2 separate regions of the Homo sapiens genome follow, and region 2 is linked to region 1. The links come from fine-mapping of genetic effects on gene expression. A gene starts in region 1. The other region holds a variant in brackets. All regions are shown on one strand. Distances are from middle to middle.

Region 1 (8,330 bases):
CACCCAGCTTATTTTTTTCGAGGCAGAGTCTTACTCCATTGTCTAGGCTGGAATGCAGTGGTGTGATCACAGCTCAGTGAAGTTTCAACCCTCCTAGGCTCAGGTGATCCTGCCACTTCAGCCTCCCAAGTAGCTGGGACTACAGGCATGCACCAACACGCCCGGCTAATTTTTAAAAATTTTTTGTAGAGATGAGGTTTTGCTGGGTTGCCCTGGCTAGTCTCTTTTTTTTTTTTTTTTTTTGAGATGGAGTCTCACCCTGTTGCCCAGGCTGGAATGCAGTGGCGCGATCTTGGCTCACTGCAACCTCCGGCTCCCGGTTCAAATGATTCTCCTGCCTCAGCCTCCCCAGTAGCTGGGATTACAGGCACACGCCACCACACCCAGCTAATTTTTGTATCTTTAGTACAGACGGGGTTTCGGCATGTTGGTCAGGCTGGTCTTGAACTTGTGACCTTGTGATCCGCCCACCTTGGCCTCCCAAAGTGCTGGGTTTACAGGCGTGAGCCACCGCGTCTGGCCCCTGGCTAGTCTCAAACACCTGAGCTCAAGTAATCTGCCTGCTTTGGCCTCCCAAAATGTTGAGACTACAAGCATAAGCCACCACACCCGGCCCACTTAGCTTATTAAGAGAAATACTCAAATAAAACTTTGTTAACATTGTTTTTATCAATTGTGTATTTTATAATTGTGACAACTCAATCCAAAAGAAACATTTAATACTCATGATAACACAATTTTAAAAAAGTTTTAATTTTGTATGTATTTTTGTTGCAGAGAAATATGATAAACCAAAGGCTTTCAGGCATAAAATGTATTATTACATGGTCAGGCACAGTATCTCATGCATATAATCCCAGCACTTTGGGAAGTCAAGGCAGGAGGATCACTTGAGGCCAGGAGTTCAAGACCAGCCTGGGCAACATAGTGAGACTCTGTCTCTACAAAAAAATGGAAAAAAAAAAAAATTAGCTGGAATCCCAGCACTCTGGGAGGCAGATCACTTGAGGCCAGGAGTTTGAGACCAGCCTGCCTGGCCAATATGGCAAAAGCCCATCTCTACTAATAATACAAAAATTAGGCCAGGCATGTTGGCTCATGCCTGTAATCCCAGCACTTTGGGAGGCCGAGGGCGGATCACGAGGTCAGGAGTTTGAGACCTGCCTGGCCAATATGGTGAAACCCCGTCTCTACTAAAAATACAAAAATAGCCAGGCATGGTGGTACATGCCCATAGTCCCAGCTACTCAGGAGGCTGAGGCAGAAGAATCGCTTGAAACCGGGAGGCAGACGTTGCAGTAAGCCGAGATCGTGCCACTGCACTCCAGCCTGGGTGACAGAGCGAGACTCCATCTCAAAGAAAAACAAAACAAAAATTAGCCAGGCGTGGTGGCATGCACCTGTAATCCCAGCTACTCAGGAGGCTGAGGCTTGAGAAGCATTTGAACCTAGGAGGTAGAGGCTGCAGTGAGCCAAGACTGCGCCACTGCACTCCAGCCTGGGTGACAGAGTGAGACAGACTCTGTCTCAAAAAGAAAGAAAGAACCATAAAAATAGCCAACCAGCAGCACAAGGGCTGTTCTGCCTATGGTGTAGCCATTCTTTATTCCATTATTTTCCTAATAATCTTGCTTTCATTTGGAAAAAAAAAATTGGCTGAGCATGGTGGCGAAAGCCTGCAGTCCCAGCTACTGGGGAAGCTAAGGTGGGAGTATTGCTTGAGCCCAAGAGGTCAAGGCTGCAGTGAGCTGTGATCCCGCCACTGCACTACAGCCTGGGTGACAGAGACCCTGTCTCAAAAAAACAAAAACTATTACATTAGAAAAAACTTCTGTGAGGAAACAAAGTGGAAATATGAGTTCAAGAAGGAAAAAGGGCCAAGCATGGTGGCTTACACCTCTAATCCCAGCACTTTTGGAGGCTGAGATGCAAGGATCACTTGAGACCAGGAGTCAGCCGGGGCAACATAGCAAGACCTCGTCTCTACTAAAAATAAAAAGAAAAATCAGCCATATGTGGTGACAGACACCCGTACTCTTAGTTACTTTGGTGGCTAAGGTGGGAGGATTGAGCTCAGCAGGTCAAGGGTGCAGTAACCAGTGACTGCCACTGCACTCCAGCTTGAGCAACAGAGCAAGATCCCATCTCGGAAAAAATAAAGGAAAAAAAGAACGATTTGAAATTTCGATGGTTAAATAAAAAGTGGTTCTTTTTTTTTTTTTCAAAAGATGAGGGAAATCAAATCAAATGGTGTATATTTAGACTTCACTGCAGGTTTAAATGAGGATTTTAACAGCTTTATTTTAAAATATCAACATTCACAATTAACCAGAACTTTTATCCTCTGTAATCTTCAAAATAAAAATGTGAAAGTTTCAATCTAAAGCTATCAATCTAAAACTGTGCCAGCAGGTAATTTTCTTTTTCTTTTCCTTTTTTTTTTTTTTTTTTTTTTTGAAACAGAGTCTTGCTCTTGTCACCCAGGCTGGAGTGCAGTGGCACGATCTCAGCTCACTGCAACCTCTGCTTCCTGAGTTCAAGTGATTCTCCTACCTCGACCTCCTGAGTAGCTGGGATTGCAGGCACCCGCCACCACACCCAGCTAATTTTTTTGTATTTTTAGTAGAGATGGAGTTTCACCATGTTGGCCAGGCTGGTCTCAAACTCCTGACCTCAGGTGATCTGCCTGCCTCAGCCTCCCAAAATACTGGGATTACCAGGCGTGAGCCACCGCGCTCGGCCTCCCAGCAGGTAATTTTTTCTTTCTTTCTTTCTTTTGAGAAGGAGTCTCACTCTCTTGCCCAGGCTGGAGTGCAGTGGCACGATCTCGGCTCACTGCAACCTCAGCCTCCCGGGTTCAAGCGATTTTTCTGCCTCAGCCTCCCGAGTAGCTGGGACTACAGGCATGCACCACCATGTCCGGCTAATTTTTTTGCATTTTTAGTTGACACGGGGGTTTCACCATGTTGACCAGGCTGGTCTCGAACTCCTAACCTCGGGTGATCCACCCTCCTCAACCTACCAAAGCGCTGGGATTACAGGCGTGAGCCACCGTGCCCGGCCCAGAGGGTAATTTTCAAAACAAAGCTAAGTTCGTGGCTTGCCTGCCTTCAGCTATCAGCCCTCTTCTTCTCTCCTTAAGGTACAGGCACCAAGAGGGGCTCGGAGACCATTTAAACGTTATTTACCAAGGGGACAGATTCAGACCTTGGTGAAGACAGACAGAGGAGGATTTGGTGGGAATTTAGGGCCCTGCTGAGACAAAAACCACCCGAACCCGTCTGTCCACTTTCTATCCATCTACCAGATCTCTAGCATTTCACCCCTTTCCCCAGGCCTATGCCAGCACTGTGCCACACCAACTCAATCTTGATTTATTCAGGTAAAATGAGCACTCTCCCTCCTGCAAAAACAAACACGTTTAAGACATAAAACATATTCAAAGGCTTCCATTTCCTCACCGTTAGAATTGAGACTTAATGTCAAAGTTCACTTGGGTAGGTTGAATCATTTTCCCACAACTAAGGGAGAGTGAAAAATCTTTGAAAACTCTGTAAGCAAACACCTGAAATGCCAACGCCTCCTTTGCGGAGCTGGGGAAGGAAGAGACGGGTGGCCGGATGGCCTCCCTCACTAGTTGGTGGGCGTGAGATCCACGCCGCCCCAGTCCCGGGGGCCTTCACTAAAACCTTAACTGGCCTCCCAGGGGAGAGGGAAGCGGAGGAGAGGGGTCTGAAAATCGGAGATGATCACTCAGCTCAACAGTAAAGCACTTTATACCCACCCTATGGGACAGATACTGTAGCTTTATTCCCATTTTTCAGATGAGCAAACTTGGGATCGGAAAGATACCCCAAGGTCACACAACTGAAGTGGCAGAAGCTAGATTCAAGAATCAATCGGCCCGCAAAGTTCTAAAGGGCAGTGGCTTTGGTCTGATCCTGAGTTTGAATCCACAATCTCCAGCCCTTTCTAGCTGTAAACCTTCCTGCGCGTCCTCAGCCGTAAAACAGAGGAAATAACACGTTGCTTGGTAGGGTTGCTGTCAAGACAATGGGCCGTGGATATAAAAGCACTTGCCTTAGTGCTGGCCGCATACGACGCGCTCAATACATCGTAACTCAGGCTTTCAAAAGAGGCCCGTACGCCCCACTAGGCCGCGAAATTGGGTCGCCCGGGGCGGTGGCAGCCCCGCGTAGCAGCCGCGGCCAGGGCCCGCCCCCTCCCCGGCGCCCGGCTGGCTCTCACCGGCCCGCGTGGCGCGCTACGTACCCAGCGCCTCCGCCGTGGCCCAGGCCTCCGCCTCTAGCCCAATCTCCGCAGCGCTTACAGGCCGGCTCAGCGGGCGAGGCGGGACCTCGGGAGCGCGCGCCTGCAGACCGGACGTCCGGCCAGCAGGCGGGGCCGGGAGAGGTTGGACGGGCGGGGCCGGGAGAGGTTGGGTGGGCGGGCGGGGCCGGGAGAGGTTGGGCGGGCGGGCGGGCGGGGCCGGGAGAGGTTGGGCGGGCGGGCGGGCGGGGCCGGGAGAGGTTGGGCGGGCGGGCGGGCGGGGCCGGGAGAGGTTGGGCGGGCGGGCGGGCGGGGCCGGGAGAGGTTGGGCGGGCGGGCGGACGCGGGAGAGGTTGGGCGGGCGGGCGGACGCGGGAGAGGTTGGGCGGGCGGGCGGACGCGGGAGAGGTTGGGCGGGCGGGCGGACGCGGGAGAGGTTGGGCGGGCGGGCGGACGCGGGAGAGGTTGGGCGGGCGGGCGGACGCGGGAGAGGTTGGGCGGGCGGGCGGACGCGGGAGAGGTTGGGCGGGAGAGGTTGGGCGGGAGGGCGGCCGGACGGACGCGGGAGAGGCCGGCGGGGAGAGCTCGGCCCCGGAGCACGGCACAGAGGTCCCCCGCAACCCCCGACCCGGAGCCATAAATTTTCCTTTCCCCGGAGCCGGGAAGGAGAGGGAGAGAGAGGAGAGGGGCAAAACTGCAGGGTCCTAACTTCGGATATAAAGCTCGGCCACTCGCTACTTGTGCAGCCTTGGCAGAGGTGATCATGAGCACTTTCCACCTGCCAGGTCCTAAGAGCACTTTGTGGGATTATCTCAGCCCGCACAGTCCGCAGGGTGGATACTATCATCATCCCCATTTTACACAACAGGAAACTATGTTTAGCGGTTAATCCATTTGCCCTCTCATACAAAGTCATGTGATTGCAGAGCCCGCATCCTGTCCATACAAGCCTAGCAAGCCACTCAGCCTCTCATCCTGTCTCCTCTCAAAGTGGGGATAATCGCAGCCGTGCAGCGTTGTTGAAAGAATACATAAAAGCCGGGCACGGTGGCTCACACCTGTAATCTCAGCACTTTGGGAGGATCACTTGAGCCCAGGAGTTCGAGACCAGCCTAAACAAGAGTGAGACTAACCCCCGATCTCTACAAAAAAAAAAAACAAAAAACAAACTAGCCAGGCATGGTGACAGTGTGGTCTCATTTACTCGGGAGGCTGAGGCAGGAGGATGGCTTGAGCCCAGGAGGTCAAGGCTGCAGAGAGCCATGATGGTACCACTGCACTCCAGCCTGGGCAACAAAACGAGACCTTGCCTCAAAAAAAATAAAGCATCTAGGCCGGGCGCTGTGGCTCACGCCTGTAATCCCAGCACTTTGGGAGGCCAAGGCGGGTGGATCACCTGAGGTCAGGAGTTTGAGACCAGCCTGGCCAACATGGCAAAATCCCGTCTCTACTAAAAATACAAAATTAGCCGGGCGTGGTGGTGAATGCCTGTAATCCCAGCTACACGGGAGGCTGAGGCAGGAGGATTGCTTGAACCCGGGAGGTGGAGGTTGCAGTGAGCCCAAGATCCGGTCACTGCACTCCAGCCTGGGAGACTACAGCAAGACTCTGTCTCCAGTTAAAAAAAAAAAAAAAAAAAAAAAAAAACTAGTTATCTAGTTATGCCTCACATATAGCAGGAAGTTGTTTTTGTTTTTTTTTTGTTTGGTTTGTTTGTTTGTTTGTTGAGACAGAGTTTCGCTCTATTGCCCAGGCTGGGGTGCAGTGGCAGGATCTTGGCTCACTGCAGCCTCTGCCTCCCAGGTTCAAGCGATTCTCCTGCCACAGCTTCCCGAGTAGCTGGGACTAGAGGTGTGCGCCACCACATCCAGCTAATTTGTTTTGCTTTTGAGATGGAGTTTTGCTCTTGTTGCCCAGGCTGGAGTGCAGTGGCATGATCTCGGCTCACTGCAACCTCTACCTCCCGGGTTCAAGCGATTCTCCTGCCTCAGCCTCCCAAGTAGCTAGGATTACAGGCATGTACCACCACACTCGGCTAATTTTGTATTTTTAGTAGAGATGGGGTTTCACCACGTTGGCCGGGCTGGTCTGGAAATCCTGACCTAGGTGATCCACCCACCTCGGCCTCCCAAAGTGCTAGGATTACAGGCGTCAGCCACCATGCCCAGCACATCTGGCTAATTTTTGTATTTCTAGTAGAGATGGGGTTTGGCATGTTAGCCAGGCTGGTCTCAAACTCCTGACCTCAGGTGATCCACCCACCTCGGCCTCCCAAAGTGCTGGGATTATAGGCATGAGCCACGGTGCCTCACCAGCAGGAAGTTTTTAATTAACACCTACCCTGTCTCCCTTCCCTTTCCTTAAACTGTATCTCTATTCTCTACTTCCTTTAAGGTAGGAATCTTGCCTATCTACTACTACAATACCCAGTGCCCTGCACAGTAGGGATTCAGTATATTGAGGAATTAAGTAATTTAACATCTTTCTCAGATCACCTGAGTCCCTGAAAGCTTTCTTCCTGACTTCAACAGTCAAGGAGACCTACTGCCATCACCCAATAAAAAGGATTCCATCTTGTGTCCAAAAGGGCCATTTGGTACAAACACCCTGCCAGTATTTGAATCTCTTCCACATTATCTCTGCCATGTATACATGTACATGTCCCATGTTGGGGAACTCACTGCCACTCAAGACAGTTTTATTTATTTTTTTTTTTGAGACAGAGTCTGGCTCTGTTGCCTAGGCTGGAGTACAATGGCGTGATCTCAGCTCACTGCAACCTCCGCCTCCCGGGTTCAAGTGATTCTCCTGCCTCAGCTTCCCTAGTAGCTGGGATTACAGGTGCCTGCCACCATGCCAGGCTAATTTTTACATTTTTAGTAGAGATGGGGTTTCACCATGCTGGCCATGCTGGTCTCGAACTCCCAACCTCAGGCGATCTGCCTGCCTCAGCCTCCCAAAGTGCTGGGATTACAGGTGTGAGCCACCACACCTGGCTGACAGTTGTTATTTTTTCAAGTCCAGTCTTGGCAGTTAGAAAGTTCTTTCTTAGGCAGTATCTCTCCTAGTTTTAAACCGTGGGGCCATACAGAACAAATCTAATTCTATTTTATAGAGCCAGATTTAATGGCTCAATTCCCTTCCTTGATCAAACAATGTATAGCTAACCTAATCCTGTGGTTCTCACCCTTTTCCCTACTCCTGACACATCCAAGGGATACCCAGACTCCCACCAGTAATCATGGCTGGCCAAGACAGGGATAGGAACAGGCCTGGCCTGTCCCCCCAAATTATCTGGATCTTCCTGGGACACAGTGTTAGGAAACCGTCCAGATGACCCTACTTTTCTCAGATACTGCCTTACAGTATTATAACTATTCATGTACAAGTGAGAGCCTTGTCTTCCAAGGAGGTATCCTTGTGGTCCGATTTGCCAAAAGCAGCTGCACCTCTGCCCCAGGAAGATCCCATAGGAAAGGGTGAAGGGCTGCTACAGGGCCTTCAACCCAGGCACCTCCTCCATAATGAAACTTGGGCTTTGGAGTTTCCATGTGATGCCATCAAGGGCTTTTTCAGCTCAAATATATGTCTTTCATGATTCAGGATGGCAATAAGAAACTTTGAGCTGGCTGTAGCTACTTACACAATCTCATTTTATCCTGAGAGTGGCCTGCATCTCAGTCACCTCTGTGTCCTTAGCATTTAGCATGATGCCTGGAATACAGTTCTGCTTCTCATTTTGTTTGATGAACAACCCTGAGTCCATTAGAGATGACTCCTTTGGCTCCTGGTTTTAAATTTATTTTCTGTACGTTTATTTATTTATTTATTTATTTATTTATTTTTGAGACAGGGTCTCACTCTGTTACCCAGGTTAGTGCAGTGGCACGATCTTGGCTCACTGTGACCTCTGCCTCCCAGGCTCAAGTGATCCTCCCATCTCAGCCTCCCACTGAATAGCTGGAACCACAGGCACACACTCCTCACTTTCTAAGCTCCAGTCCTAAGTCATATCATTCTCATTGCCATACCTCAAAAGCACCCAAGTCTCAGGCACCTGG
Region 2 (8,330 bases), 310 kb after region 1:
GACCAGCCTGGCCAACCCTGGCGAAACCCTGTCTCTACTAAAAATACAAAAATTAGCTGGTCGTGGTGGCAGGTGCCTGCAATCCCAGCTACTTGGGAGGCTGAGGCAGGAGAATCGCTTAAACTGGGGAGGCGGATATTGCAGTGAGTGCAGATTGTACCACTGGATTCCCGCCTGGGCAACAGTGCGAGACTCCGTCTCAAAAAAAAAAAAAAATCACATCCAAGCTCCTGGCCTGGCTTTCCTTTCCGCTCCCTTCCATTGACTGCCTCCCTTGGTGGTCTCTCCATCTCGTTTTCCCATGTTGCCCCACCCAGTTATAGAGTCAGCTGGTCACATCTCTCAAAAGTGCCAAAACTTCCAACTCATGCTCTGAGGAAGGATTCTTAAGAAATAAGAATGTCCAAACTGGATGTCCAAAACTCCACCCATGCTGGGTCCTGTCCCTGTCTTGTTGGGAAGAATGTGGGTGGAGAAGGAAGGAAGGAGAGCAAGAGAGCTTCCCCCTTGTGAAGCAAGAGGACCATTGGGGGAGGAGCAGTGGCAGTGCCAAAGGGGGCTTTCATCCCTCCGTACCCCTCACAGTGCCCCAGAAGCCCCTTCAAAGAAAGATGTACTCACCATGCTTCAAGACAATGCTAGTTGCTACAACAAATAAACCCCCAAATATATTTTGTTTATTTCCCACTTATTTACCAGTTCATTGCAGATGTTCTTGGTTTGCAGGTGACCTTCCCCCATGCAGTGATTTAGAGACCAGGCTTTTTCCATTTTGAGGCCCTACCACCGCCTGGTCTAACTATCATCTTCTACACTCATTTAATAGGAGGGGAAAGAGACCCCATGAAAGGCATAACCACTCCTCAAAAGCCTTGGCCTGGAAGTGACACACGTTACTTCTGCTCCCATTCCATTGGCAAGAACGTGGCATGGGGCCAAGGGGGCCTGGGAAATGTGGTCCCTGGCTCGGCAACTGCTTCCCAGTGACAGCAACACTGGAAAGGAGAGTTCAGATGTTGCTCTCCCTGCCACTGAGCTCTGTTGAGTTTTCACCAGTCAGGTGGCCTTACTTTTAAACTGTGCAGAGCTCTCTGGATGTGAAGAGTTATCTCCCACTCCATCACCAGCATGGTTTCTTACTGTCTCCTCCATTGCTGAGGTTGTTACAGGCTCTTTTCCAGCCCCTCCCTCCTCCCTCAGCCACCCGGGGTCCCCCTCCTTCTAGTCGCTTGCCTAAACCTGACCTCCTCCAAGACACTTTTCAAGGATCTCAGCATCTTCCATTCTCTGGGCACCCTGTTTGCCATAAACACAAGTAGGAGCACTGTTTGGAGAACATATGTGCCCCTCTCTCATCTGCTTGCTAATGTTTGGTATTCTTCAACAGAGCACCAAGGTTTTCTCCCCACGATCAACACCAAGACTTCAGATGCGTGTACCCAACACTAAGACTTCAGATACATGCACCCTGGGGGAGAGGGCAGATCTTCTCGCACACAGGGGAGTGGTTGACTGGGGGATCCTTATAAGTCCTTGCAGAGGGGAGGGAAGGAGAGCAAGGGGACCCTGGGCAGGGGCAGACAAGGGAGCCAGCTATTGAAAGGGAGGCTTTGGCTATATTTTTCAATTAGCTCTATTTTTCAGTCATATGTTGAGCATCTTCAACTTTTTCTAAACAGACTAATCAAATAGTGTCCACTTATTAAATGCTGATATGGTTTGGCTGTGTCCCCAACCAAATCTCATTTTGATTTGTAGCTTCCATAATTCCCACGTGTTTTGGGAGGGACCCGGTGGGAGATCATTGAATCACGGGGGCGGTTTCTCCCATACTGTTCAAATGACAGTGAATAAGTCTCATGAGAGCTGATGGTTGTACAAGGGGAAACCCCTTTCACTTGCTTCCCTCATTCTCTTTTTGCCTGCCACCATGTAAGACATGCCTTTTGCCTTCCATCATGATTGTGAGGCCTCCCCAGCCACGTAGAATTGTGAGTCCATTAAACCTCTTTTTCTTTATAAATTACCCAGTCTTGGATATGTCTTTATTAGCAGCGTGAAAGCAGACTAATACAAATGCCAACCTTGTGCTGGGCACCACTAGCTCTTTTTATAAGCATGGTCTGATTTATCTTCCCAACAACCTCGTGAGGTAGGAACTCTTATTTTATCCCCGTTTGGCACAGGAGAAAAGCAAGACTCAGAGACATTTAGTAATTTTCCCAAGGTCACATAGCTTCTAGTCATTCTAGAAGAGCTTGGGTTTGAACCTAGATATCCAGCCTCAAAGTCCTCCAGTCCTCTGTGCCTGTGTCTCCTCTTCCCCTGGGATACCCAGCATGGCAGAGGCACTCAATGCTCATTGACTACTCATGTCCTCCTCCACACTTCCCAGCCTTCCGTGCAGTCAGGGTGGGGTCATGAGGCAAACTCTGACCAACAGGCTGTGAATGGAAGTGACAGGTGTCATTTCTGGACCGAAACACTGAAGTGCTGCTGTCCAACCCTCCTGTTCTCTCTTGGCCTTTAGTGGCAACCACAGATGCCATGGTTTGAAATGGTAGAGCCACTAGAAGGAAGTAGCCTGTACAAGGGACAGCTAACCTGGACAGTTACCCAACCTGCAGCAGTTTTGTGTGAACGAGAAAAATACACCTTTGTTGCATCAAGAAGCCGCTAAGATTTGGAGGTCAATGTTTACCTCAGCACACTATAGCCTCTCCTGACCAATACACCAGAACAGGACACTAGATAGAGTAGGGTTCCACTCAGTTGGTTACTAACAAGGTGGTGCTCTCAGACATTTTGTTTTATAAACTTTACAGTGCTCCAGAGTAAGGATGGAACTGAAGGACTTTCTAAAACACAAGTTCCCAGCTGGGCGCAGTGGCTCACGTCTGTAATCCCAGCACTTTGGGAGGCCAAGGTGGGCGGATCACTTGAGGTCAGGAGTTCGAGACCAGCCTGGCCAATATGGTGAAACCCCATCTCTACTAAAAATATAAAAATTAGCTGGGCGTGGTGGCGGGCGCTATAATCCCAGCTACTCAGGAGGCTGAGGCAGGAGAATCACTTGAACCTGGGAGGTGGAGGTTTTAGTGAGCCAAGATTGCACCACTGCATTCCAGCCTGGGCGACAAAGTGAGACTCAGTCCAGTCTCAAAACAAAACAAAACACCAAAACACAACAACAAAAACACCACAAGCTCCCAGAGGCAGGTGGGAGAACACCAAGGGTCTTCATCAGCCCCCTGGGGAGCAGGAGCCCCTTGCCCAGCCTCCCATCCCAGGTTCCCCTCTGCCCTGCATCAAACTTCTCCCTGTTGCTGGTTTCTAGAGCTGTTCCCTCTCTGGCACAGCCCCTCTGTCTCCACCCCGCAGCAGCCGGCTTCCAGAAGCTAAAGCTCAGACACCACTGGCCCCTCCCCAGATGCAACCAAGTACCTGGAAGTCTCCCCACGCCTCACATTGTCTTTGCTTCACATTGTCTTTCAGATGAGTCCCTGGGGATGCGGAGCTCTTGCGATTCTGCCATCTGATCCTGCAATACAGGAAATCACCACTTTCTGGCCTCTGCTGACTGGAGAGCCAGTGTGGCAGGCAGGAAGCTCCAGTCTGGGCTGTCCACTGCCAGGTCAGGTCTGGGGAGAAGGTGGAGAGTCCCAGGCCCGAGATGGGCTCCTGGTTGGGGTGGGGAGGGCCAGGACAGCCAGCGTGTTCACTCCTCCCACAGACGGTTCTACAAACCCTCGTGGAAACTTTCTGTGCGGCTGGCCCTGTGCTTGGTGCTGTGG[G/A]AGCACAAAGGCAAGAGATCATGGCACCTGACTTCCAGGAGCCTCCATCCTGCAGGTCCAAGTAGGACATTAGCTGCAGAGAAACAGAGCAAAGGAATAAATAGCAGTCAGGGATTTTTCACTTGCAAGTGACGTGAACCCAGGGCCAGAGTAAGATCTATAGAGAGGCTGGGCGCGGTGGCTCACGTCTGTAATCCCAGCACTTTGAGAGGCTGAGGTGGGCGGATCACTTGAGGTCAGGAGTTTGAGACCAGCCTGGCCAACATGGTGAAACCCTGTCTCTATTAAAAATACAAAAATTAGCTGGGTGTGGTGGCATGCGCCTGTAATCCCAGCTACCCAGGACGCTGAGGCAGGAAAATCACCTGAACCTGGGAGGCGGAGGTTGCAGTGAGATCACACCACTGTACTCCAGCCTGGGCGACAGAGGGTGACTCTGTCTCAAAAAACAACAACAAAACAAAAAAAAAAAAAAAAAGGGAAAGAAAGAAAGAAAGAAAGAATGAACCAGCATGGCACATGTATACATATGTAACTAACCTGCACATTGTGCACATGTACCCTAAAACTTAAAGTATAATAATAATAAATAAATTAAAAAAAGAAAGAAAGAAAGAAGAAAGAAAGAGAGAGAAAGAAAGGAAGAAAGAAAGAAGGAAAGAAAGAAAGAAAGGAAGAAAGAAAGAAAGAAAGGAAGGAAGGAAGGAAGGAAGGAAGAAAGAAAGAAAGAAAGAAAGAAAGAAAGAAAGAAAGAAAGAAAGAAAGAAAGAAAGAGGAAAAAAGCCCTGATATAGCTCTGGCTGTGACTGAGTCACAGCCCCATACCTGAACTGATCCCATAGCAAGCACAGGGTTCAGAAGTGGAGGGGGTAGGAGAAAAGATGGGCTACTCCGACTTCGAGGCCTGGGCCTTATGAGCCTCTCTGGATCCTGGGAGTGGAATCAGCTTCTTCTGGACCACATGTCTGAAGGTGGGCGACAGATATTTCTCATGGAATATTGGAGTGTTTTGATCAGAAGGAGGAAGGATGCTGGGTAGGGTCACAACCAAGGTCTGCTGCTGGTGGGAGAATGGAATACGCCCTCAGAGAAGTATGAACCAAGGGCTGTGGGAATTCAGAAGAGGGAGATGTCATGTCCAGCTGAGGGGGTCAAGGAAGGCTTCATGGAGGAGGAGGCATCTGGGCTGGGCCTTGAAGGATGACCAGAGTTTGGGCATTGGATCTCTTAGGATGGGAGGAAAGGGCATTGTGGGCATAGGGAACAATGTGAGCAGAAACCTGGATGTAAGCCAGAGAGAAGCAGGGGCTGAAGCCAGATGAAGGAAAGGCCTCGAATGCCAAGCTAAGGGGCATGGATTGAATTTGTGGAGCCAAGGATGGGATCATCAGATCTGAGCCCCTGGAAACGCATACTACCCACTCAGGGGCCCGGCTCCCCACCCCCACCCCTGGCCTGCTCTGGGTGCCCACAGATCCCTTTTCCTTTCGTTGAGCTCAGACAAGTCTGGAGTTTTCCAATAGAAATGCTTACTCAGAAATGGAAGAAAAGTGAAAACAGAAAGTGTGATTACAGACCTTAGCTTTCTCCTGCCAAAGTAGACAAGCTTGGTACCTGTGACAGTCCCTCTTCTCTGGGCTGAACCTGCCCTCTCCCCTCTGCCTGCTGAGCCCCAGGAGAGGCGGGGGCTGTGCTGGGGGTAGACAGCGTGCTCTCCCTGTGGGACCCTCAGGCTCTCCAGGGTCCATTCCTGCCCTGCCCTGAATAGTACTTTCTCTGCAGCTGCCCTGGCTCAGGGCAAGGGGGGGCACCCCCAATTCTCACCCCCTAAATTCCTCCCCGACCCTGGAGCCACACTGCTCTTATTATGTCACCAGGAGGTTTTTCCAAGACGTCTGCTAAGAATCAGGTGAAAATCAGCTGAAGGCTGAGTCTGCGCCAGTTCTCAGCCCCTGAAGGGTGGGTAGGGCCATGTCCCAGTCAAAGGTGTGGACTGTGGATTCCACCTCTGTTGCTAAGATGGGACAGAGAAGTCCCATAGCCTCCCGGAGCCTCAGTTTTCTCTTCTGCAATAGAGAACTAATAAGCTCCAGCTCGTAGGATTTGTTGGAGGATTAAACAGTATCCCAGAAGTCACTTACAGGCATGGGACATGTCTGCAGTACGTGGTGACAATGAGGATGATGAAGAAGAAGATAATGGAGATGAAGGAACCACCAGGAGGGGAGACATGGACCAGCAGGGTCTTTTACTTTGGATTGCTCTGAGGTGACACCAGGTGTGTGTGAGTCCACATTGACAGGCTGGGCAGATGGATGGGCGGGGGGTCAGGACGCAGCATGGGGGCTGAGGGCAGCACCATCCCGAACCACACTCCTGGGCTCTGAGCTCGCCTCACGCTGCTGGACTCAGGAGAACCTCAGCATGAACACTCATCATGTCCTCTAGCCTGGAGCTTCCCAAATTAAGGAAGGGGTGGCCTCTGGGTCATTCCAGAAAGCCCTGTGATTCAGACCGTGCCGATGTTACCCTGGGTGGACTCCCTCAGCCTCAGCCTCCCTCATCAGTTAGGGGATCCCAATCAGACTTTTTGGAGGTCAGAGGCTGCCAGGAAAGAGGGCTTTTAACAAGGTTTCTACAAACCTTGAGATTGCTAGAAAGGGCCTGATGGACGGGGTGGGGCAGGCGGGGAGAGGGGGGAGGGGGAGGAAGGCTCAGGTCAGGGGTCACCAGGCCTTAATGATCCCTCTCAGCAAACTAACTTGAGGATGTATTCCAATTGTATTTGCTTATTTATGTCAGGAACATAAACTATTGCATTAATATATTATGCCTATTATAAAAATACGTATAAAACGAAAATTTTAAGAGATATCAATAGGAAACAAGTTAAACAAATGACGTCCCATGCATACAATCAACTATGACTGACCTATTTTTTAAAATGATGTCTTATAACTCGATAATAAGAAGACAAACAACTAAATGTAAAGATGGACAAAACAACCCAGGCGTGGTGGCTCATGTCTGTAATCCCAGCACTTTGGGAGGCCGAGACAAGTGGATTGCTTGAGGCTAGGAGTTTGAGACCAGCCTGGGCAACATGGTGAAACCCCATCTCTACTAAAATTACAAAAACTAGCCAGGTGTGCTGGCAGGCGCCTGTAATCCCAGCTACTTAGGAGGCTGATGCAGGAGAATCGCTTGAACCCAGGTGGCAGAGGTTGTGGTGAGTCAAGGTTGTGCCACTACCCTCCAGCCTGGGCAACAGAGCAAGACTCCCCCACCGCCACCACAAAACTCCCGCTGCAAAAAAAAAAAAAAGATGAAAGACTCTAATAGACATTTTTTTCAAAGAAAATATATGGGCTGGCATGGCTCAGGATATTGTGACACATGCCTGTAATCCCAGCACTTCAGGAGCCGAGGCAGGAGGATTGCTTGAGGCCAGGAGTTTGAGACCAGCCTGGTCAACATAGCAAAACCCCATCTCTACAAAAAAAAAAAAAAATTAGCCGATATAGTGGTGTGTATCTATAGTCCCAGCTACTCAGGAGGCTGAGGCAGGAGGATCTTTTGGGCTCAGAAGCTCAAGGCTGCAGTGAGCTATGATTGTGCCACTGCACTCCAGCCTGGGTGACAGAGGAAAACCCTCTCTCTCCTAACAATAATAAAAAAGAATGGTTAATAAGCACACAAAAATGTTCAATTTCAATTTGTTATTTGAAAAATGCAAATTAAAACCACAATGAGATACCATTTCAAACCCACCAGGATGGCTATAATCAAAAAGACAGATAATAATAACAAGTGTGGTGGAGAATGTAGAGAAAGTGGAAGCCTCATACATTGCTGTTGGGAATGTAACATGATGCAGCCACTTTGGAAAACAGCTTGGCAGTTGCTTAAAAAGTTAAACAGAAACTACCCAAGAGAAGTAAAAATGTGGCCACACAAAGACCTGAATGCTCATAGCAGCATTGTACATTTTAAAAACCCTGTAAATCATCCAAATATGCAAAAGCTGGTAACTGGATAAACAAAATGTGAAATATCCATTCAGTGTAATACTACTCAGCAATAAAAAGGAACAAACTGGCCGAGCGCAGTGGCTCACATTCGTAATCTCAGCACTTCGGGAGGTCGAGGCAGGTGAATCACCTGAGGCCAGGAGTTTGAGACTAGCCTGGCCAACATGGTGAAACACCATCTCTACTAAAAATACAAAAATTAGCCGGGAGTGGTGGCGCACGCCTGTCGTCCCAACTACTCAGGAGGCTGAGGCACAAGAATCGATTGAACCTGGGAGGTGGAGGTTACAGTGAGCCGAGATCGCACCACTGCACTCCAGCCTTGGCGACAGAGTGAGACTCGGTATCAAAAAAACAAAAAACAAAAAGCAAAAAAGGAACAAACTTCTTAAATGAGCTACGACATAGATGAACTTCAAAAATATTATGCTCAGTAAAAGAAGCTAGACACAAAAGACCACATATTGTGTGCTTCCATTTATATGAAATTTCCAGAAAACACAAA

What was found.
Region 2: its variant is fine-mapped to the expression of DCAKD in adrenal gland (GTEx, PIP 0.98).

Annotation. Positions count from the first base shown.
Region 1 is chr17:45,047,281-45,055,610 of GRCh38, forward strand. DCAKD (dephospho-CoA kinase domain containing) reads right to left here and starts at 4,352. Exons shown (of 5, transcript NM_001288655.2): 1 at 4,081-4,352. RefSeq lists enhancers at 1-376, 377-907 and a silencer at 3,993-4,492.
Region 2 is chr17:45,361,240-45,369,569 of GRCh38, forward strand. It overlaps LOC105371796 (a long non-coding RNA gene), which reads right to left and starts at 5,283. Exons shown (of 3, transcript XR_934786.3): 1 at 4,620-5,283; 2 at 3,445-3,541; 3 at 2,010-2,444. The variant G/A (reference allele first, on the strand shown) is at 3,795.